2 linked regions of the Homo sapiens genome follow. The protein of the gene in region 1 interacts with the protein of each later gene in a pairwise test. Each region holds a gene or a part of one and is shown on either strand. Other genes may lie near its edges.

Region 1 (15,759 bases):
AACAGCACGAATCATAAGGCAGGAGAGGAACACTGAGTCTGGGAGGCGATTCTCAGCTCTCACCTGGGCCAGTCTGCACGTGGCCACGGAAAGAAAATATTGGGCCTCAAACCTGGCTCAGACGCTGCTTCCTTACGAAAATCTAGCCTAGTCTTCCCCACCCTCTGCCCGGCTTCGTTCCGCAGAATGAGCCCGCGCGGTTAACATGATCGCCGTAGGGACTTCCAACTCTCGGTTCTACCAGGAAATAGGGCCAAGGCCTACGCGTAGGCTCCCACCCCCATACCAGCAGAGACAAAGCCGTAGCCGTAGAAGAGCGTCGTGGTGGCTGCAGCAACTTCCAGACGTGGGTCCCTCCACGCCCGCCTCCCGACCCCACTTACTAGGCCTTTTCATATTGGCTGTAGAAGGAAGCACAAACACATCAACCTGCCTCCGCTGGCGCCACGTGTGAACTGAAGCCACTGACGAGCGTCACGCACTTACGCTGCCGCCGTAAAGTGCGTCACCGCCTCTCTGCGTGCGCGGGCACGCAGTGTCGCGCGGAGCAGGGATCGCTTGGCGGCCGCGGGACTGGTTTTGCGGCGGCACCGGGAGGGGTAAGGGAGGTGAGGGCGGCGGGTGCCGAAGCGACGGCAGCGGCCGCGGCCGGAGGAGCAATAGCAGCAGCCGTGGCGGCCACGGGGCGGGGCGCGGCGGTCGGTGACCGCGGCCGGGGCTGCAGGCGGCGGAGCGGCTGGGTAAGGCCGGGCCCAGGGCGGGTGGGGCCGCTCCCCCTTGGTCAGCTGCCGGGCCTTTGTGTGGGCCCGGGCGGGCGGGAGCCGCGGCGGAAGCCCCGCCCCGGCCGTGGGGACGCGCGGGTCGGGCCGGGCGCGCGGGGTTGGGCGGGGCGCGGCGGCTGGCCTCCGGATGGGCCCAGTAGCCTTGTCGCACCTGCCGGCAGGGACAAAGGCGCACTACGGGTCGGAAACTCCCCGCGCTCCTCTTTCCCGCTCGTCGCGGGGCAGCTTCAAAGCTGTCAACGTTTCCCTCAGTCCCCAATACCAGTGACAGGTCGGGAAAGTCCTTCATTTCCTCCGTTGCTCAGGGCCTCTTTTTTTTGTTGTGGTTTCTTGACGGTTCGACACAAACTCTTAGTGATTTTCTTTCCGTATTTTTTCCGGGTATTTTAATCAATGGGACTTGTATTTATAGTAGAGGCCAGATATTTCAGCTTCTCAACACCACAAAGAATCCGGGATTTTGGGAACTGTGTATATTTCTTGGTTTGGGGAAGCACAGTTTTGTTATTATAATAAGTTTTAATTTAAAGGGGAAGAAAGAGTTGCAAAAATATAGAAAAAGCCCTGAAAAATAAGTACACGGTATAGTGGATATAGAAATTCTTACAATAATTATAGAAGCGTATGTTGGGGTGAATTGTTTTAATTAACTTACTTTCCAACACAGGATTCTTGACAAATAATTTTAGGTATTATTTTTTTCTCCATTTGGCTATGTGCTTTTCCCCAAAAAGTGCAAATTGGACTCATGCACATAAAAGAGTAGCATAATTTTTGCTTTATTACTTACAGGTCGCCCATATTTGATTTTGAGCTCCAAAATGGAAGATTGGAAAATATGTTTTGAAGAGGTGTTTCAAATTAAAACAATAAAGAGTTTATGTGTGGATGAATGGAAGGGCCTTGACCGCTTTCTTTGGCTTTGGGAATGTACAAAATACCTCAAATGTTAATATCCTACCAAAATTCCCAAGATAAGTAAATTGTGGTGTATCTATATGATAGATTACTATCAAGTCATCAAACATCATGAGGAAGAATGTTGACTTGGAAGAACCTTCACTAAAACACAGGCTGTAGAATAATATATGTGGTTTGTTAACATTTTGGTAAAAAATAATAGGTAACTAAGGCATAAATACCAAAAACCGAATGACAACGTTAAGAGTGGTTTTTTTCTTGGAAGTAGGTTTATAGGTGTTTTTTTTCCTTTGAGTCCTGTTTTCCAAGATTTTGTTTTAAACATGTATTGTATTGCTAAATATTACTAGAAATATAGGAGAGGGCTAAAGTTCATAAACGGTCGAAATACACTGTTTGTCTATAGTAAGTCGATATTCTCCCAGTTGCACATTATTAAGTATTCTTAACTGTCCACTATAAATTATTGATTGTTAGACTTTTGAACTTGTAACTGTAATCAAGGCCATTTTAAAACTTGGCATTGAACTCTGGAATCTGTCTTTCCTCTTCATGGAAAGACAAAATTGCTGAAGGGATGCTTACAGGCATTTTTTTTTTTTTTTTTTTTTTTTTTTTGAGACAAGGTCTGACTTTGTTGCCCAGGCTGGAGTTCAGTAAAGTGATCATGGCTCACTGAAGCCTTGTGCTCCTAGGCTCAAGCAGTCCTCTCACCTCAGCATCCCAAGTAGCTGGGATTACTGATGTGCAGCACCACACCCAGCTAATTTTAATTTTTGTAGAGAAAAGATCAATCTATGTTATCCAGTCTGGTCTTGAACTCTCTGCCTCAAGCGGTCATCCTGCCTCAGCCTCTCCAAGTGCTGGGACTACAGATATGAGCCCCTGTGCCTGGCTGAGGACTTTTAAACTATACAAATAAACTTTTTTTTTTGAAGGTCTCAAGTGCACTTTTTTTTTGTTTTTTTTGGAGACAGTCTTACTCTGTCCCCCAGCCTGGAGTGCAGTGGCGCAATCCCAGCTCACTGCAATCTCTGCCTCTCTGGTTCAAGCAATTCTCGTGCCTCACCCTCTCGAGTGCCTGGGATTACAGGTGCATGCCACCACCTTGCCTAGATAATTTTTTGTATTTTTGATAGAGACGGGGTTTCACCGTGTTGGCCAGGCTGGTCTTGAACTCCTGACCTCAGGTGATCTGCCCACCTCAGCCTCCTAAATTGCTGGGATTACAGGCATGAGCCACTGTGCCTGGCCCTAAGTGCACTTTTAATACATTTATTAAAAGATAAACTGAGCACATAACCTATACCAAATACTATCCTGTAAGACAGGTCTACAAAAATGAATATGCTGTTCCTGTGCCTGGGGAACATGCAGAAGTGATTTCACTTTATGTTGTTTTTTTTTTTTTCTTGAGACGGTCTCGCTCTGTCACCCAGACTGGAGTGCAGTGGTATGATCTCGGCTTGCTGCAACCTCTGCCTCCTGGGTTCAAGCAATTCTCATGCTTCAGCCTCCCAAGTAACTGGGTTTACAGGCATGCACTGCCTCAGCCAGCTAATTTTTTTTTTTATTATTTTTTTGAGACAGAGTCTTGCTCTGACGTCCAGGGTGGAGTGCAGTGGTGCCATCTCGGCTCACTGCAACCTCCGCCTCCCGGGTTCAAGCGATTCTCCTGCCTCAGTCTCCCAAGTAGCTGGGATTACAGGTGCGTGCCACCAAGCCCAGCCAATTTTTTTTGTATTTTTAGTGGAGACGGGGTTTCACCGTGTTAGCCAGGATGGTCTTGATCTCCTGACCTCAGGTGATCCATCCGCCTTAGCCTCCCAAAGCGCTGGGATTACAGACATGAGCCACCGCACCCAGCTAAATTTTTGTATTTTTCTTTAGTAGAGACAGGGTTTCACCACGTTGGCCAGTCTGGTCTCGAACTCCAAGTGATGCACTGGCCTCGGCCTTCCAAAGTGCTGGGATTACAGGCATGACCCACCACTCCCGGCATTACGTTCTTATTTTAGAGATGAAACAGATCTGAGAGGTTACATCAACTAATCAGACAACATCAAGCTGATAATCAGAGGTGGAAGACTTAGGACTCCTATTCTGGTCTTAGGAGCAAAGGTCCTGTTGTTTCTCCCACCTTATAACATTGCCCTTCTTGTCAGACTTTCAAAATACATTTTAAAATGTGTCCCATGGATAAGAAAATACTTGAAAATTATCCTTAAGTTGAAACTTTTTCTTATCTTACCAAAGTAAATTAATGATTCAAGGATATTGGGATATTGTGTCATCCGAACGACATACACATGCTGATAATGTATTTTTTTGTCATTTGATTTTCAGTGGATTATTTATAAAAGTAATTTTGAACTCCTGCCAAAATGGTTGGCCCTTTTTTTTTTTTTTTTAACCTTGTCAAATTTTTATATGGTGTCTCCAATGCAGATAGGACTTTTGGAAATAAATGTTCTTTCTCTGAATTTTTTTTTTGTGGGGGAGGGTGTTTTCCAGACCTTTTGCTCACATGAGCCATTCTTGGTTTGTTCCAGCTTGCCAACACTTGGTGTCACATGTGAGCCTCCCACATGTATTCACTCTCCATTCCAGCTCTGTGATTGAACTCTGCTCTTATTGACTAGGGGGCAGTTGGGCAGGCATGCCTCATTCCTGGAATTGACAGTCATTCCTAATGTGAGTAAAGGGGAACCTCAATGAGACATCTTTAAACATATGAAAGCATTTGGTTTTAAAATGGAAGAACTGTCAGGTACTGTTAGTGCCTGAGCCTTTGCAGCAGTTTGTTTGATAGGTACAAGAGAACTGATATGCCTGTTTTCTCCAGTTCTCTTTATCTTTCTTTAGCAGTTCTATTTGAATGTTTTCTATCTATTCGTACTCATTTTTACTCCTTCTGACCCTTCTTTTCTATTTCCCCCTTCTCTGCCTTGTTCTTCTTTTTCAGTTTTGAATATACTAACACTGAATCAGCACTTCTAAAGCCCTTCCTTCTCCCACTGGCTTCACTTGGCTTTCAGACATAATGAGGAGACTGGCTTTTCGAGGCGCTGGTTGTGCTCTGGTAAAGCTGGTAAATTACTGATTATCTACACCCTTTCCCTTTTCTGTCCTTCCTTGACTTTTTCCTTCCACCTTTCTTAAATTTTTGTTATCCTTTCCACAAAGATTCCCTCCTTATGTTCATCAAATTCACTTGTGTCTTTGTCATAGATTGTTTAAAAGGGATTGGTCCTTAATTTATCTTAATGAATTGAGTCCTGTTGATCAGCTTTTTATAAAATGAACAAAAATCAGCAAAACTTGGCTAAGTTTTGGCTAAGCCTTTTGACGATTTTAACTACTTTTAGCCAACTTCAAACTAATAATACTGTATAACAAACCGAAGCCTAGAGTAAGGAACATCATCGTGGTAGATTTTGTTTTAAACACCATGTGGACTTTAGTTTGGAAAAAGAGATCTGAGACTTCTCTTTTTCCTTAATTGCTCACCAGGATTTTCAAATGTGATTCTTTTGCTCCTTCTTTCTGTTTCCTGGAGATCCCCAACCTTTCTTTCCATACTGCTGGCAACCAGTGTTCTCCTGTTCTAATCATTCAGCTGCTGGTGTCGTAGTGTCCTGAAATTCAGTGTTTCCATGTGCCTTACAATTATGAGGTACTCTAGTTCTATGAGGTTCCTCATAATTGTAAGGCACATGGAAAAGCAGATGAGGTGCTGACTCAAGAAGTGAATACCTTGGGGCCTCTGAACCCCAGGCCTGCCTGACTACCTCAGGGGCTGAAGGATCAATACCTTCAGTGTTGATGAGTGAAACTGGGATCTTTTTTTTTCTTTTAGCTTTAGAAAAAGGCCTTTGACGGGCGGATCACGAGGTCAAGAGATTGGGACCATCCTAGCCAACATGGTGAAACCCCGTCTCTACTAAAAATACAAAAATTAGCTGGGTGTGATGGCACACGCCTTAGTCCCAGATACTCTGGAGGCTGAGGCAGGAGAATCGCTTGAAACTGGGAGGTGGAGGGAGGTTGCAGTGAGCAGAGATCGTGCCACTGTACTCCAGCCTGGTGACAGAGCGAGACTCCACCTAAAAAAGAAAGAAAGAAAGAAAGAAAAAGGCCTTTCAAATCACAATATACTATTTGATAGTATTGTTAGATTGTATTGCAATATAAGCATTGCAGGACTTTCTTGGGTATATACTATCTGTAGCAGATCATTCAGTGGTTGCATTTCTTGTGTTGTAAATAGAGTTATAGTTAAAATTGTTATAGTTAAATAGAGTACGTGTTATAGTTAGAGTATGTCATATCACTAAAAGGTGATTAGTTTGAATTAACAGAAGAGTTTCAAAGGATAGTTTGTACCTCTGTCTAGGTATAGCAAGTCTCATTAAGTGTTTTCCAGGGATATGTCTTGTGGATCCTGTTTTAATGAATGGAGAACATTCATTTTCAGGGTTTTAATTTTAGAGTACATCTAAAGTGCTAGAAGGTTAATTGTCCTCTGTCCCCTTACCTTTTTGCACTACTCATTTGTCCTGGGCTCTGCTTCTTGCTCTTTTCCACATGATGGCCCACCTAGCAAATGATCATAATTGTAAGGCACATAGAGAAGCAGATGAGGTGCTGACTCCAGAGGTGGATACCTTGGGGCCTCTGTACCCCAGGCCTGCCTGACTGCCTCATGGGCTGAAGGCTTAATACCTTCAGCACACTAATGTACTGCTACATATAGGTTGGGAAACTCTAGGCCAAATTTGGAGCCAGAAGTTGAGTCATTCAAGATTGCTGATATACAAATGAATATGCTTTTGTTGAATTTGTCCCATCAAAATTGGAAGTATAGCATTCTGGTAAGTGAAAGACTAAAACAAGGAAGTCCAGGGCTTAAAAAAAAAAAAAAACTTATAGCTAGTTAAACTACAACACGTTAAAATATCCTCCTAAGTGAGCCAGGAGTTTGGTAGCAGGTGTCCAGCTGAAGACTTGGTGACAGAGTCTATTTAAATGTAAGAACATGGCTGATTATTTCTTATAGAAGAAGTTGGATTCCATGGGTTCCAAGAGAAGAAGAGCTACCTCCCCTTCCAGCAGTGTCAGCGGGGACTTTGATGATGGGCACCATTCTGTGTCAACACCAGGCCCAAGCAGGAAAAGGAGGAGACTTTCCAATCTTCCAACTGTAGATCCTGTGAGTAACTTGGATTACATGGTTTCTGCCTGCTCTTCCCACAATTCCCCTATCTTCCCTTTAATGGTAAAATTGTTACGATGCAAGGCATCTCCACTTTTTTAAGATTCTCTTGATTAATAGTCTTTTCTTTTATGAACATTATGTATTCAGCTAAGTCTTAGAGTAATAGTGTGATCTTATGAATAATTTCAGTATGTTACATCATATATTAATTCAGCAAATAACTGTGTGACTATCATGTGACAAGCACTGTTCTCATGGTTGGGATATAGCCATGTGGAAACAAGCCCATTTTTCACATGGAACTTAGATTCCAGGCGGGGGAAGTAGAATGTAAACAAGTAAACGAATAAAGAATAATGTATCCTTAGCTAGTAATAAGTGCTAAGAAGAAAATTTTGGGTGATTTGGGCTGTTTTGGCCTGAATTCGCTGGAAGAGAGTTCCAGACAGAACCAGTGCAGAGGGGTTGGGTCAGGGATGAGTTTTGTGTGTCTTGGTTACAGAGCAGGGGATGGTCAGGAAGGAGAAGGAAACTGGCAAGCTCCACCCATTCAGAGTATGTAGGGCCCACACAAGCAATGTTTGGAGTTTAGATTTTATTCTCTGTGAAGTGATAAACCCTTCTGTCAGATGGCTTTAAGCAAGAGAGTGATAAACTGATTTAGTTTCAAAGAAGAAAACCCTTCAATTGGATGACTTTAAGCAAGAAAGTGATGAACTGATATAGTTTAGAAGACAAAATCACCAGGAGCATAAATCTGATGAAAGATACCAAAAAGTTAGTCAACTCAGTTGTTTGAAAGGAGACATATTGTCAGCATATTTCAGACTTTAGCATGTTTGGTAATATTGAGAGTCATCATTTTTCTTCTCTACTTGCCTTTTATTGAAGAGTAGAAAATAATTCTTATGTCTACACTGGCTTTCTGTTCACTTTTTTAGTGATTTTTTTCTCCTTTGCTAATGTGTAGATTGCCGTGTGCCATGAACTCTATAATACCATCCGAGACTATAAGGATGAACAGGGCAGACTTCTCTGTGAGCTCTTCATTAGGGCACCAAAGCGAAGGTGAGTTCGAAGCACATCAGTACAGTTGCGGGGGATTTGGTCCAGAGTCCATGTGTATTAAAGTGTTTGGAAATTGAGCTTTTTGTTGGCAGGAATGGCTTAAATGATACTGGGGTCCAATTTTAGTCTTTAGTCTTTAGTAATCAAGCTGTAGTGAAGCTTTTTTTAAATTAAAAATCTGTTGAGCCAGGCACAGTAACATGCACCTATAATCCCAGCTACTTGATTTTTTGAGCCAGGCACAGGAGCATGCACTTGTAATCCCAGCTACATGGGAGACTAAGGCAAGAGAATTGCTTGATCCAAGGAGTATGACACCAGCCTGGGCAACATAATGAGACCCCGTCTCTTAAAAACAAAAACAAAAAAAATGACCTATGCGGAAAGATCTCTTGAGGCCAAGAATTTGAGACCAGCCTGGGCAACATAGTGAGACCCATCTCTACAAAAAATTTTTTGAAAAATTAGCCAGGTGTGGTGGTGCTCACCTATAGACCCAGCTACTAGGGAGGCTGGGGTGGTAGGATTGTTTGAGCCTGGGAATTTGAGGCTGCAGTAAGCCATGAGTGTCACTGCACTCCAACCTGGGTGATGGAGCAAGAGCTTGCCTAAAAATAAATATTTAAAAAAGAGTACTGACCAGGCACAGTGGCTCACGCCTGTAATCCCACCACTTTGGGAGGTCTATAGGTGGGCAAATCACCTGAGGCCAGGAGTTCGAGACCAGCCTGGCCAACATGGCAAAACCCTGTCTCTACTAAAAAATACAAAAATTAGCCAGGTGCAAGGCTGGGCGCAATGGCTCATTCCTGTAATCCTAGCACTTTGGGAGGCGAAGGCGGGTGGATCAGCTGAGGTCAGCAGTTTGAGACCAGCCTGGCCAACGTGGTGAAACCCCGTCTCTACTAAAAATACAAAAATTAGCCAGGCTTGGTGGTGGGCGCCTGTAATCCCAGCTACTTGGGAGACTGAGGCAGGAGAATCACTTGAACCCGGGAGGTGGAGGTTGCAGTGAGCCGAGATCGTACCGTTGCACTCCAGCCTTGGTGACAAGAGTGAAACTCCATCTCAAAAAAAAAAAAAAAAAAAAAGCCGAGCATGGTGGTGGGGCGCCTGTAATCCCAGCTACTTGGGAGGCTGAGGCAGGAGAATTGCTTGAACCTGGGAGGCAGAGGTTGCAGTGAGCTGAGATCCCGCCACTGTATTCCAGCCTGGGTGATAGAGCCATTCTGTAGGTTGCCTTTTCATTTTGTACGGTGTCCTTAGATGTACAAAAGGTTTTAATTTTCATGAAGTTTATGTTGTCTTTTTCTCTTGTTGCCTGTGCCTTTGGTGTCATATCCATGAAATTAATGCCAAATCCAATATCATGAAGCTTTTCCCCTATGTTTTTGTATTAATCAGGGTTCTCTTGGACAGGACTAGGCTGCAAATTTTCCAAACTTTTATGCTCTGCTTCCCTTATAAAACTGAATGCCTTAAACAGTACCCAACTCACCTCTTGAATGCTTTGCTGCTTAGAAGTTTCTTCTGCCAGATACCCTAAATCATCTTTCTCAAGTTCAAACTTCCACAGATCTCTAGAGCAGGGGCGAAATGCCCCAGTCTCTTTGCTAAAACATAACAAAAGTCACCTTTACTCCAATTCCCAGCAAGTTCCTCATCTCCATCTGAGACCACCTCAGCCTGGACCTTATTGTCCGTATTGTTATCAGGCTTTTGGTCAAAGCCATTCAAGTCTCTAGGAAGTTCCAAACTCCCACATTTTCCTGTCTTCTTCTGAGCCCTCCAAACTGTTGCATCCTCTGCCTGTTATCCAGTTCCAAAGTCGCTTCCACATTTTCGGGTATCTTTTCAGCAGCGCCCAACTCTACTGGTATCAATTTACTGTATCAGTTGGTTTTCACACTGCTGATAAAGACATACCCGAGACTGGGAAGAAAAAGAGGTTTAACTGAACTTACAGTTCCATATGGCTGGGGAGGCCTCAGAATCATGGTGGGAGGTGAAAGGCACTTCTTACATCAGTGGCAAGAGAAAAATAAGCAAGAAGCAAAAGTGGGAACCCCTAATAAACCCATCAGATCTCATGCAACTTAATCACTATCACGAGAATAGCACGGGAAAGACTGGCCTCCATGATTCAGTTACCTCCCTCTGGGTCCCTCCCACAACATGTGGGAATTCTAGGAGATAACAATTCAAGCTGAGATTTGAATGGGGATACAGCCAAACTGTATTGGTTTTCCTCTAAGAGTTTTATAGTTTTAGCTCTTACATTTAGGCCTTTGATCCATTTTGAATTTTTATAAGTAGTGTTTAGGTAAGGATCCCGCTTCATTCATTATTTTTTTTTTTTTTTTTTTTTTTTTTTTTTTTTTTTTTGAGACGGAGTCTCGCTCTGTCGCCCAGGCTGGAGTGCAGTGGCGGGATCTCGGCTCACTGCAAGCTCCGCCTCCCGGGTTCACGCCATTCTCCCGCCTCAGCCTCCCAAGTAGCTGGGACTACAGGCGCCCGCCACTACGCCCGGCTAATTTTTTGTATTTTTAGTAGAGACGGGGTTTCACCATTTTAGCCGGGATGGTCTCGATCTCCTGACCTCGTGATCCGCCCGCCTCGGCCTCCCAAAGTGCTGGGATTACAGGCGTGAGCCACCGCGCCCGGCCCCCGCTTCATTCTTTATATGTGTGTATCCAGTTTTCCCGGTATCGTTTGTTGAAAAGACTGTGCTTTTCTCATTGAATGGTTTTGGCGCCTTTGTCAAAATTTGCTTGACCGTGTATGTGAGGGTCGTTTCTAGGCTCCATTCTATTCCATTGGTCCCTGTGTCTGTTTTTATACCAGTAGCACACATTTTGATTACTGTGAACAACATATTCAGTGGCAAAATACTTAAAGCTTTTCCTCTAAGATCACGAACAAGACAGAGATGCCCACTTTCACCACTTCAACACCTTGTTCACTGTGGAATAAATCCCACCTGGTTATGGTATATAATCCTTTTAATATCCTGCTGAATTCAGTTTGCTAATATTTTATTGAGAAATTTTGCATCAGTATTCATAAGGGATATTGATCAGTAGTTTTCTTGTAGTATCTTTGTCTGGCTTTGGTATCAGAGTAATGCTAGCTTCATAGAATAAGTTAGGACGTGACCTCGCCTCTTCAATTTTTTGGAAAAGTTTCATAAGGCTTGGTGTGTTAGTTCTTGAAATGTCTGGTTAGAATTCATCAGTGAAGCTATCAGTCTAGGGATTTTCTTTGTGGGAGATTTTTTATTACTGATTCAGTCTCCTTACTAGTTATAGGTTTACTCAGGCTTTGTATGTCTTTAGTAGGTTGTGTGTTTCTAGGAAATTATCCATTTCTTCTAGTTTATCTAATTTGTTGGCATACATGTTTTCCTAGAACTCTCATAATCCTTTTTATTTTTGTGGCATTGGTTGTAATGTCTCCTCTTTATGATTTTAGTTATTTGCATCTCTTTTCTCCCTTACTTCTTCCCTCCCTCCCTCCTCCTTTCTGTCTTTTTTTGAGACAGGATCTTGCTTTGGCACCCAGGCTGGAGTGCAGTGGCAATCACAGTTCAGTGCAGACTCAACCTCCCGGACTCAAGCAGTCCTCTCACCTGATGCTACCATACCTGGCTAATATATATGTTATATATACGTGTGTATGTATATAGTAAACACATAAAATATATATATTGTATATATAACGTATTTTTTATTTATATATGTAAAAATATGCTGGATTCTTACCTAACGCTACATACATATTAAAAAATAACGTATGTAATGTTAGGTAAGGAGATATATGTGTGTGTGTGTGTGTATATATATATATATATATATATTTTTTTTTTTTTTTTTGGTAGAGACAGGGTTTCCCTGTGTTGCCCAGGCTGGTCTCAAACTCCTGGGCTCAAGTGATCCTCCTACCTTGGCCTCCCGAAGTGCTAGGATCACAAGTGTGAGCCACCACACCCAGCCTCTCTCTCTCTTTTTTTTTTTTTTTTTTGAGATGGAGTTTCGCACCAGGCTGGAGTGCAGTGGTGCGATCTCGATTGTGGCTCACCACAACCTCCGTTTCCCAGGTTCAAGCGATTCTCCTGCCCCAGCTTCCCGAGTAGCTGGGATTACAGGCATGGGCCACCACGCCCAGCTAATTTTGTATTTTTAGTAGAGACAGGGTTTCTCTATGTTGGTCAGGCTGGTCTCAAACTCCCGACCTTAGGTGATCCGCCTACCTTGGCCTTCCAAAGTGCTGGCATTACAGGCGTGAGCCACCGTGCTCAGCTCTTTCTTTCTTAGTTAATCTAGCTAAGTGTTTACCAATTTTGTTGATCTTTTAAAAAAACCAACTGTTTAATTTTTAAAATTGTTTTTCTATTCTCTAATTTCGTTTATCTGCATTCTATATATATATCTATATATATATTTTTTTTTTGAGACAGTGTCTTGCTCTGTTGCCCAGGCTGGAGTGCAGTGGCGTGATCATGGCTTATTGCAGCCTCTGCCTTCCAGGTTCAAGTGATTCTTATGCTTCAGCCTCCCAAGTAGCTGGGATTACAGGCGTGTGCCACCATGCCTGGCTAATTTTTGTATTTTTAGTAGAGATAGGGTTTCACTTTGTTGCCCAGGCTGGTCTTAAACTCTTGACCTCAAGTGATCTGTCCACCTCATCCTCCCAAAGTGCTGGGATTATAGGCATGAACTACTGCACTGGCCCTCCTTTCTATTTATTATCTACTGCTAGCTTTGGGTTTAGTTTGCTCTTCTTTTCTCTAATTCCTTGAGAAAGAAGCTTTTTTTTTTTTTTTTTTTTTGAGATGGAGTCCCACTCTGTTGCCCAGGCTGGAGTGCAGTGGCACAGTCTTGGCTCACTGCAACTTCCACCTCCTGGGTTCAAGCAATTGTCCTGCCTCAGCCTCCCGAGTAGCTGGGATTACAGGCATACACCACTATGCCTGGCTAATTTTTTTTGTACTTTTAGTAGAGACGGAGTTTTGCCATATTGGCCAGGCAGGTCTCGAACTCCTGACCTCAGGTGATCCACCCGCCTCAGCCTCCCAAAGTGCTGGGATTACAGGCATGAGCCACTGCACCTGGCCGAGAGTGAAGCATGTTTTTTAAATTATTTAATTTTTTTGTTTCATTTTGTTTTTTAACACCTGGTTCACATAGGCAGTATAAAAATTAATAGTTCTTATGGCTGGGCGCGGTGGCTCATGCCTGTAATCCCATCACTTTGGGAGGCTGAGGCGGGTGGATCACTTGAGGTCAGGAGTTCGAGACCAGCCTGGCCAACATAGTGAAACCCTGTCTCTACTAAAAATGCAAAAATTAGCCGGGCGTGGTGGTGGGTGCCTGTAATCCCAGCCACTTGGGAGGCTGAGGTGGGAGAATTGCTTGAACCCGGGAGGCGGAGGTTGCAGTGAGCTGAGATTGCACCATTGCACTCCAGCCTGGACAATAAGAGCAAAACTCCGTCTCAAAAAAATTAAAAATTAATAAAAAAAATTAATAGCTCTTAAGACTGTATTGAAGTTGTCACAGTGATAGTTAAAAGGGATCAGTTTTTTAAATTACACAGAGAGGCATCTTGCACACAACTTCCTATGGAAGGTATGTTCCCCTAACTAGAACATCTTTCCTCTCTTGCTGTCAAAATATAATCACTATTCTCTTCAAAACTCTGGCAATTGGCCAGGCGTGGTGGCTCATGCCTGTAATCCCAACACTTTGGGAGGCCGAGACAGGTGGATCACCTGAGTGCAGGAGTTCGAGACCAGCCTGACCAACATGGAGAAAGCCCATCTCTACTAAAAATACAAAATTAGCCGGGCGTGGTGGTGTGCACCTATAATCTCAGCTACTCGGGAGGCTGAGGCAGGAGAATCACTTGAACCCAGGAGGCAGAGGTTGCAGTGTGCGGAGATAACGCTGTTGCACTCCAGCCTGGGCAACAAGAGTGAAACTCTGACTCAAAAAAAAAAAAAAAAAAAAGCCAAAAAAAAACCTCTGGAAATTGAAGTTATTTGTTCTGAAAACGTATATGAGTGTGTTAGTCAGAAAACTGGTGCCCAAATATTTCCACATTCTAATCCCTGAAACCTGTGAATATATTGTGTTACATGGCAGAGGGGAATTAAGTTTGCTAATCAGCTGATCTTGAATTGGAGCGGTTATCCTGGATTATCCATGTGGGTCCAGTGTAATCACAAGGGTCCTTAAATGGGGAAGAGGGAGACAAGTTCAGTCAGAGATTTGAAGATGCTGTAGTGCTGGCTTTGAAGATGGAGGAAGGAGACTACAAGCCAAGGGATGCAGGTGAGCTCTAGAAGCTGAAAAAGGCAAGGAAACCTTTTTCGCTAGATGCTCCGTACTAGAACATCCAGACGGCATGCAGCCCTGCTAATACCTTGATTTTAGACCAGTGAGACCCATTTTGGACTTCTGACCTCTAGAACTAATATAATAAATGGGTTTTGTTTTAAGCCCTGAAGTTTGTGGTAATTTGTTACAGCAGCTGTAGAAAGCTGTGAGTTAACTAAAGATTTAGATTCATTCATGATTGTTGATGCTACAGTGGGTAGTTACCAAGCTCTAAGTTGAACTGGAGGCAAATTTCTCACCTCAACGAGCAAGCCACTGAGAATGCAGTGTCATCATCCTGAATTAGGAGAGCCCTGTAAATTAGCAAATTAGCCATGGCCAAAAAGGAAGCATTGTTTTTAAAATGAGGTAACTGTCTCCATATTTGAGTTGGTTTATCAATAATAGTCTTCTGAAAGTTGTCATTTAATTAGCATAAAGTAGTAAAAGCATGTATTTATTGTTTGCCACATTCTAGACACAATACCAAGCATTTTCCCAATCATATCTTATTTAAAATTCTGAGTTATCACAGTTTATAGGTGAGAACTTGCACAAGTTCTTGTAACTACTAAAAGATAACTGGTGTTCAGACTAAAGTCGTTCTGACTCCAAAGCCTGTGCTCTTAACCATTATGTGGTATAGAGTAGCAGCATCACACTGAAGTATACAAAACAACTTTTATAGAAGATACCGTCCCTCTGCTGCCTCCTTTTTGCTGGCAGGCGAGTGCTGAGGGGCAGAGGATACACACCTTGGGTGCTGGACCACTGTCATGTTACAACCTCGAAGATAATGGTGCCTTTTTTCTGACGCTCCTCTGTGGAATGTATGTTTTTTTCTCAAGTATTTATGAGAATTAGTATTGCTCAGAGCTACACAATTTGTGAATATCTTTTTGATACTTTGTTTCAGTTACTGTATTAGTCTGCTTTGTGCTAGGACATGCAAATCAACAATGGCTGAAACAAAAGAGAAATTTATTTCTCTTGTGTAAAAGTCCTGTTCTGTGAAGTTGTCAAGGTACAAGTATTAGCCAACTCTATTCTGCGGTCTTTGTGGTATCACCCTTGCCTGCATGGTCTGAGATGACTCACTACCACAACTGCCTTCCAGCCAGTATGGAAAAAGAATGAATGTTAAGGACATGACTTGGATATGACACACTTCAGCTCTCGTATTGGCTAGAATCTAGCTGCAGTGAGGCTGGAGAATAAATATGGTCTTTAAGGTTTTGTTTTGCTTTGTTTTCCTTAGAGACGAGGTTTTACCATGTCACATAGGCTGGAATGCAGGCTACTCACCAGCACCATCTTTGCACACTACAGCCTTGACCTCCTGGGCTCAAGCAGTCCTCCCTCAGCCTCCCAAGTAGCTGGGACTACAGGCATG
Region 2 (7,394 bases), on another chromosome or scaffold:
TGAGCATTTGAGAAGAAAACATTTCTTTCTTGGCTGTAAATAAAACCCAAACCATATTTGTTTTAATAATAGCCAAGTTGTACTATAGCTCTCCCTAAACTTTGCTTCCAGCGCGGCTTCCCTTGCTAACTCTGCCAACCAGTGTCAAAGTGGACGGTGGGCTTAACCTCTGCTATTAATCTGTACAAGTGCCTCCTGGGCTTTGTTCCAAGCAATATTTCACAAATGTCAGTGCTGAGAACTCGCGGCTCCCCTGAGTGGGATGCAGCCTTGTTAACTTTGAAAGGCTGGGGATGCAGAACTGGCATGATATATACAGTGAGCGATTCCTGATTATAATCCCAATTCTCTGGAGGTCGCGGAGGTATTCTCAGCAGCCCAGCCTGACTAAAGGGGAGAATGATGGCTTATAAAACCTTTCATGATTACAGTTTGGCTTGCGGCTCTACAGCAGTTAGGAGCGGTGTGTTGTAGTACACATCCTAATTGAATTGTGCTGTTCTGCCTATGTACTGCAGCCACATTTTGTGAGCTCAGCCTCAAAATCATTTTCCCGCAGTGCACTGTTGGGATCTGCCATTTTCCATCTAGTCAACTTGGGCAGTCAAAAAGCAAATTGCAGTTTGAAAACCATAGAGGGAACCGTGTCATCTTACTGACATGCATCATCCTAAACCTAATAAGACAGGTTCGCTGGCCTTATGTATATGGGGATTTTTCAGCCAGCCATGCGAGTTCCTGCAGGACTGATGCTATTCACAGAGTGGATGGGGGTGGACTCAGTGCACCCCTGCAGAGGTCATAAAGGAACATTGCGAATCCTTCTAAATGTCAAGCAAAATTAGATCTGGGGAAAAATAGGGTCAGAAATCCTCCCAGGCATCTTGCAGTTATTCTGAACCTGTTTTTCTATTAGTGTTTGTGGTAATTCTGATAATATCCCTGAAGTGTAACTTGGCTCCCAGTAGCTTCCCTAGAAGGAGCGTTCCATAGAATGATCTACTAAAACAAGGTCCACTTGGATTCAACAGAGATGCTAACCTTGACTGAAAAACAAACTTGTGTTGTGGCAGTGCTGTGATTTTGCCAGTGATGGGGCCTTTCTTTGTTTCTGTGTGTTTTCTGTGCACGGATGGGCACGGCACAGGCTATGAGAAGTACAACTCCATGCGAGCTGACCCCGCGCTGTGCTTTCTGGAACGAGTCGGTATGCCTGATGCCAAGGCCATAGCTGCCGAGCAAAGAGGAACAGACATGCTAGCAGATGGTGGTGACGGGTAAGAAGGACATTTTAAAATTTGAATAAACTTTATGTCAGTTTCACATCTATTGGCAGGGTTCAGTTCTTACCCTGCAGTACACACTGTATTGTGTCTGATTTGAAGTTCAGGAGATGTTTACCAGTCTACTCTATTTGTATGTCGTAATGACTGTTTAAACAATATACATTATCTTGATAATCTGAAACTTGTTTTTCTTTTCCAAATGTCATTTCCCGCAATCTCCCCAGACCCCCTCCACCACACTGCCATGGCTGCATGTTTTAAATACTGATAGAGTTGCTTTTGATGTCAAACCCATAATTAAAAGTAGCACTGGGCAGATTATTACTCTTTCCTACCCACCCCCCTTCCTTCTTTTGCTTATCAGTATGATTCAAATAATTTTTGTGTTTGTTTTACATAGGGGAGAATTTGATAGAGAAGATGAAGACCCAGAATATAAACCAACCAGAACACCGTTCAAAGATGAAATAGATGTATGAACTTGAGTATATTGGCTTTTATAGCTCCATTAAAATATTATATGCCCACATAAGACTTGTTAAACTTTATAGATAATGACCTTTTCTTTAAAAGACAAAGAAAAATGAGACCCCAAATTAAAGTAATTCTGTTTCTTGCTTTGCTTTCAAGGAATTTGCAAATTCTCCTTCAGAGGATAAGGAAGAATCCATGGAAATACATGCCACAGGTAAGGTCCCAGAAAAGCTTGTGTAGCCGAGCAGACGTGCACTGAGCAGTCATTGTTCACGTGGTAGGGACTGTCCTGCTTCATGACAGCAGTGTCTTAACACCTTATTTCTTCTACACTGACCTGTTTTGTGAATCATTTTAATTCTTGTTAATGGCTGTGTTTTCATGACATTGAATTTCTTAGATAGGATAACTATTTCTTTGATGATAATTAGCTGATTTATATTTTACACTAATTAGTGAAAAATTTTAAGCATCTAAACTATAGCTCTTGGGAATAGAGCATAGAGCATTTGCTAAGTATTCACCTAAAATATTTTCAGTTTATTTAGAATATTGACCTTTTACCGAATATAAAATCATTACACAACAATTATGCAGTTATTTTTTATACTCAAGATGATTATTGCACATACATTAGAGGAGAGTACCTTATAAGAAGTTTATGCTGTAAAGTGTGTTTCTTTATGTAGGACTAATAAATAATGTTTTCATCCCCTCTAAGGAGGTAAAAAAGAAATAAGTGTATATATTCCAAGTGAATGTTATTACTTATTTATATTTTAAAAATGAGGGCACTGAGATGCCCTTTCCCACACTGTCATTTGAATCTTAATGAGTCATCCTGTTTTGTTGGAATACTCTGTATTGCAAGATTGCAGCTACACATTTCAAAAATGTTTTTCCACTTCCCCAGGCAAGCACAGTGAGAGTAATGCTGAGTTAGGCCAACTTTACTGGCCTAACACTTCAACCCTGACTACACGTCTGCGCCGGCTCATTACTGCCTATCAGCGCAGCTATAAAAGGCAACAGATGAGGCAAGAGGCCCTAATGAAGACTGACCGGCGCAGACGGCGGCCTCGAGAGGAAGTGAGAGCTCTGGAAGCGGAAAGGGAAGCTATTATATCTGAGAAGCGGCAAAAGTGAGTTTCTTCAAGGTTTCCACTCAGCTCCCGGTACATGCCCCTCTGCCCTGCTCCTGTAGACCCACAAGAGACAGGACTCATATCAAAGGTAGTGACCACCAAAGAAAGGCTCGCTCCAACAAAGCAGTCTGTTTCCCCACCCCCAAATAACTACCATGTATAAAGTCTGGGGGGAAGAAGAAAAGAAACAGTAAATATTAAGTCTTTTCCTGAAGTATGATGCAAGCTAATATAATCTTTCTAACAGGTGGACAAGAAGAGAAGAGGCTGATTTTTACCGTGTGGTATCCACCTTTGGGGTTATTTTTGACCCTGTGAAACAGCAATTTGACTGGAACCAATTTAGAGCCTTTGCCAGGCTTGACAAAAAATCTGATGAGAGTTTGGAGAAATACTTCAGTTGTTTTGTGGCCATGTGTAGGCGAGTATGTCGAATGCCCGTCAAGCCAGATGATGGTAGGTACATTTAGCAACAAAGTTCTATACAAAAAGACGAGTAAAGTGAAAAATAAGAAAGTGTACAATGTAGAATGCCCTTGAATTCTCCCCAAGTAAATATGAGCCCTTCTGTGTTACAGAACCGCCCGACCTCTCCTCCATAATTGAGCCGATCACAGAGGAGCGAGCCTCTCGAACTCTGTACCGCATTGAGCTGCTACGGAAGATCCGCGAGCAGGTTCTCCATCACCCCCAGCTGGGAGAGAGGCTTAAGCTCTGCCAGCCAAGCTTGGATCTGCCAGAGTGGTGGGAGTGTGGACGGCATGACCGAGACTTGCTGGTTGGTGCTGCTAAACACGGGGTCAGTCGGACGGATTATCACATCCTCAATGACCCTGAGTTATCCTTCTTGGATGCACATAAAAACTTTGCTCAAAACAGAGGGGCAGGTAATACATCTTCCTTGAACCCACTGGCAGTTGGATTTGTCCAGACTCCTCCAGTCATCTCATCTGCTCATATTCAAGATGAGAGGGTACTGGAACAAGCCGAAGGCAAAGTGGAGGAGCCTGAAAACCCAGCTGCCAAGGAGAAATGTGAGGGCAAAGAAGAGGAAGAAGAAACCGATGGCAGCGGGAAGGAGAGCAAGCAGGAATGTGAGGCAGAGGCCAGCTCTGTGAAAAATGAACTGAAAGGTGTTGAGGTCGGCGCAGACACTGGGTCCAAATCTATTTCAGAGAAAGGTTCCGAAGAGGATGAAGAGGAAAAGCTGGAGGATGACGATAAGTCGGAAGAGTCTTCCCAGCCCGAAGGTAAGGCCTTACCACTGGCCCCTCTCCTGACCCTGCAGCAGCTGGTTGTGAGATGCGTTGCTTTCTGGCAGCACGGCACCTGCTCTTTTTCACGAGTACTTAGTGTACATTTTCTTCTGTGAAGGGATAATTTCAAGTTATGCTTATATCTGTGTTTTGCTCTCGCACCTTATAGCACCTAACCATGGTATTTTGAAGAACATAAACTCTAAGAAGGGTTGCATGGACACATTAGCAATTTCTGGTTTAAGGATGGAAGTTAACTTGTAGTGAGTGACAGTGTATTAAGAATTCTATGTGATTTTAATTTTGACAAATGTGAGGGAAGGTGGTCATTCACTGAGTAAATATTGTTAATCATTTTGAAACAACTGGTGCTTGTTATGTTTTGATTCAGAAGTAAAGAGTGGGAATAGAATCTAAAAATAACCAATTTTTTAAGTCACAGTACGGTTGCTGAAACTGGCCCAGAATAAAAATAGAGCACGTACTGTGCTGTAGCTGGAACCTTCAACTTTTGACAGAAGGTCAGCCCTTTTTTCTGTGTGGAAGAACATAGACTCTTGAGTCAATGACTTGGTTGGCTATCAGCCTCTTGTAAGGTTTACTTGCACGGTGCTAGGTGGCTAGTGACTAACCTCTCTAAGCCTCTGTGTCATCATCTGCAAGATGGAAATAACACCATCTATGTTAAAGGGCTGTTGTAAGCTTTAGACAACAGTGCCCAATACCATTCTAGCCATGTAGTAGGTACTCAATAAAATGGAGCTGATTAGTATTCACATTTTTAATCATGTCCTTTCTAAACTTCAGTTTCCCTGATACTGTGGTTGTGAGTAATGCACATTAACTCATTTCTCAGCAGGAGCTGTCTCTAGAGGGAAGAATTTTGATGAAGAAAGCAATGCTTCCATGAGCACTGCTAGAGATGAAACCCGAGATGGATTCTACATGGAGGACGGAGATCCTTCAGTAGCTCAGCTCCTTCATGAAAGAACATTTGCCTTCTCGTTTTGGCCTAAGGTTGGCAGGTTTTTGTTGCTGTTGTTTTGCTGACCAAAAAGGATTAGGGTAGAGGAAATCTTTCTAGCTTGATTTTTCAAGTAATTTTAAGGTAAACTTTTGACACAGTATATGAAGACTATAGATTTTTCTTATACTTTTAAAGAATGATCTGAAAAAGCCCAAAGAAAAAAATTGTAGAACACTTTTCTAATAGGATGGGAAATGTGATGTGAAAGAAAGATAATAAGAAATAGAAGTGTGTATATGGATTGATCTTTGGCTCCATGTGGCTTTTAGGTTACTTACCCCCGTTGTCTAGCATAATGTATGGATTATCACTGTGTTTTAAAATTTTTTTGTGAAATAAAGCCTTCAGATTTAAGACAACTTTATAGTTTTGGAAACCTACCAGCTTCTTGACTTGGAAGAGGGTGTACTGTTGACCCATTTGCTTTTGACGCATTATGAGATAATTCCAAATGTAGTTATCTGTAACCAAAAGCAAAATGGAAATTACTTTTTTGGCTAAATAGTATAATTTTATAATAATTCCCTGTGTAATTTAGGTCTGTTTTTCAGGGTGAGGAAATAATCATCCTAATCACCATAACAGGGCTGTCTGGTTTAAAACAACACAAAAAATGAGCTTCAGTCAGCCTACCCCCCAGGCTCGTCTTTCCCAGTATTATTGTGTAAGAAACAAGGTGAAAATTTTGACCAAAGAATGTACTGTCAAAGACATTTTGTTTCCTCTCTCTATCCCTTTAGTTCCCCTGTTATGCTAACCTCCTTTATTGAGTGTAGGAGGGAGTTTCCCAGATCAGTCAAAGGTTATAGTAGCAGGCACTTTTAATCTATGGAAACTCAGTCTAAAGCTGTAATTAGAAATTTTTAATGTACACGCTTCAATGAAATTTGAAGTGATAATAGGTAGGGAATGCAAATTGACATTCATTAGGTGTTCCTAGGTTGGTGCCCACTTCATAATGCTGAACTTTATTAATAGTGACGCTAATGATGTCCTACTTCCTGGGACTGCAATCCAGCCTGTAGATCTGAAGGGCCAGGGCGGCAAGAAGCTAATGCAGGGTTTCCATTGTCATCTACTGACATCCACCAGCAGAGCTCTATGGAGCTTGTACAAGAGTTACTTTTTAAATATGAAGATATTTTGAAGGTGGTGATTATGTAGTACATTTTTCTGTTTTATGTAGTTCAGTGTTCGTAATTAAAAATAGCATGTTTTCTGTGTTGAAGCCACCTAGGACCTTCTGCCAGAGCAATGCCATTATAGGAGATTTTGTTTATTTACTTTCTTGTTTGATTTCTTGCCTTGTTTTCTTTTACTTTTTGTCCTCCAGTTGACTTTTAAACATTTTATGCTCTTTTGCATCTTGATGGATGTATTTATCTAGTAATTTTAACCAGGGCTTTGTTAAAATTTCTTGTGACTTTTCTTCTCCCTCCAGGATAGAGTAATGATAAACCGCTTAGACAACATCTGTGAAGCAGTGTTGAAAGGCAAATGGCCAGTAAATAGGCGCCAGATGTTTGATTTCCAAGGCCTCATCCCAGGTTACACACCCACCACAGTGGACAGCCCCTTGCAGAAGAGGAGCTTTGCTGAGCTCTCCATGGTCGGCCAAGCCAGCATTAGTGGGAGTGAGGACATCACTACGTCTCCTCAGTTGTCAAAGGTGAATTAGAATGGCTTGTTTCTGCAGCTTAAAAGGGAGCTCTCTAAGCCTTAACTGAGTTTGCGAGCTTATATTTCACTGGCCTTGCTTAGAAATAAGATAGCTGCTGTTTCCTCAGCTCTGTGCACCAGTCATGAATGCTTAATTCCTTAAGCTTCTTGTTCCTTATTTCTAAAAGCCAGCCCATATAGCAGTACTGTTTTGGCTCACTGCAACTCTGTTCTGTTGGAATTTTTCAATAGGAAGATGCCCTCAACCTCTCTGTCCCTCGCCAGCGGAGGAGGAGGAGGAGAAAAATCGAAATTGAGGCCGAAAGAGCTGCCAAGAGGCGAAATCTCATGGAGATGGTTGCCCAGCTTCGAGAGTCTCAGGTGGTCTCAGAAAATGGACAAGAAAAAGTTGTAGATTTATCAAAGGCCTCAAGAGAGGCAACAAGCTCTACCTCAAATTTTTCATCTCTTTCTTCAAAGTTTATCTTGCCTAATGTCTCAACACCAGTGTCTGATGCCTTTAAGACTCAAATGGAACTGCTCCAAG

What was found.
Region 2: the proteins of PBRM1 (region 1) and CHD7 interact in binary tests that used the Homo sapiens proteins (3 or more experiments, as listed by UniProt).

The regions. Positions count from the first base shown.
Region 1 is NC_000003.12:52,670,730-52,686,488, reverse strand, and holds the start of PBRM1 (protein polybromo-1), read left to right. Parts: upstream 1-575; 5' UTR 576-740; intron 741-889; exon of another isoform or gene 890-1,053; intron 1,054-1,574; exon of another isoform or gene 1,575-4,397; intron 4,398-4,668; exon of another isoform or gene 4,669-4,746; coding exon of another isoform or gene 4,747-4,794; intron 4,795-5,562; exon of another isoform or gene 5,563-5,626; coding exon of another isoform or gene 5,627-5,629; intron 5,630-6,762; coding exon of another isoform or gene 6,763-6,777; coding exon 6,778-6,915; intron 6,916-7,891; coding exon 7,892-7,989; intron 7,990-15,759. Other genes in the region: GNL3 (guanine nucleotide-binding protein-like 3), read right to left, coding at 384-396. UniProt on the Homo sapiens protein: Involved in transcriptional activation and repression of select genes by chromatin remodeling (alteration of DNA-nucleosome topology). Required for the stability of the SWI/SNF chromatin remodeling complex SWI/SNF-B (PBAF).
Region 2 is NC_000008.11:60,849,346-60,856,739, forward strand, and holds part of CHD7 (chromodomain-helicase-DNA-binding protein 7), read left to right. Parts: intron 1-1,147; coding exon 1,148-1,277; intron 1,278-1,686; coding exon 1,687-1,759; intron 1,760-1,916; coding exon 1,917-1,974; intron 1,975-2,673; coding exon 2,674-2,902; intron 2,903-3,152; coding exon 3,153-3,361; intron 3,362-3,483; coding exon 3,484-4,155; intron 4,156-5,017; coding exon 5,018-5,178; intron 5,179-6,629; coding exon 6,630-6,857; intron 6,858-7,099; coding exon 7,100-7,394. UniProt on the Homo sapiens protein: ATP-dependent chromatin-remodeling factor, slides nucleosomes along DNA; nucleosome sliding requires ATP. Probable transcription regulator. May be involved in the in 45S precursor rRNA production.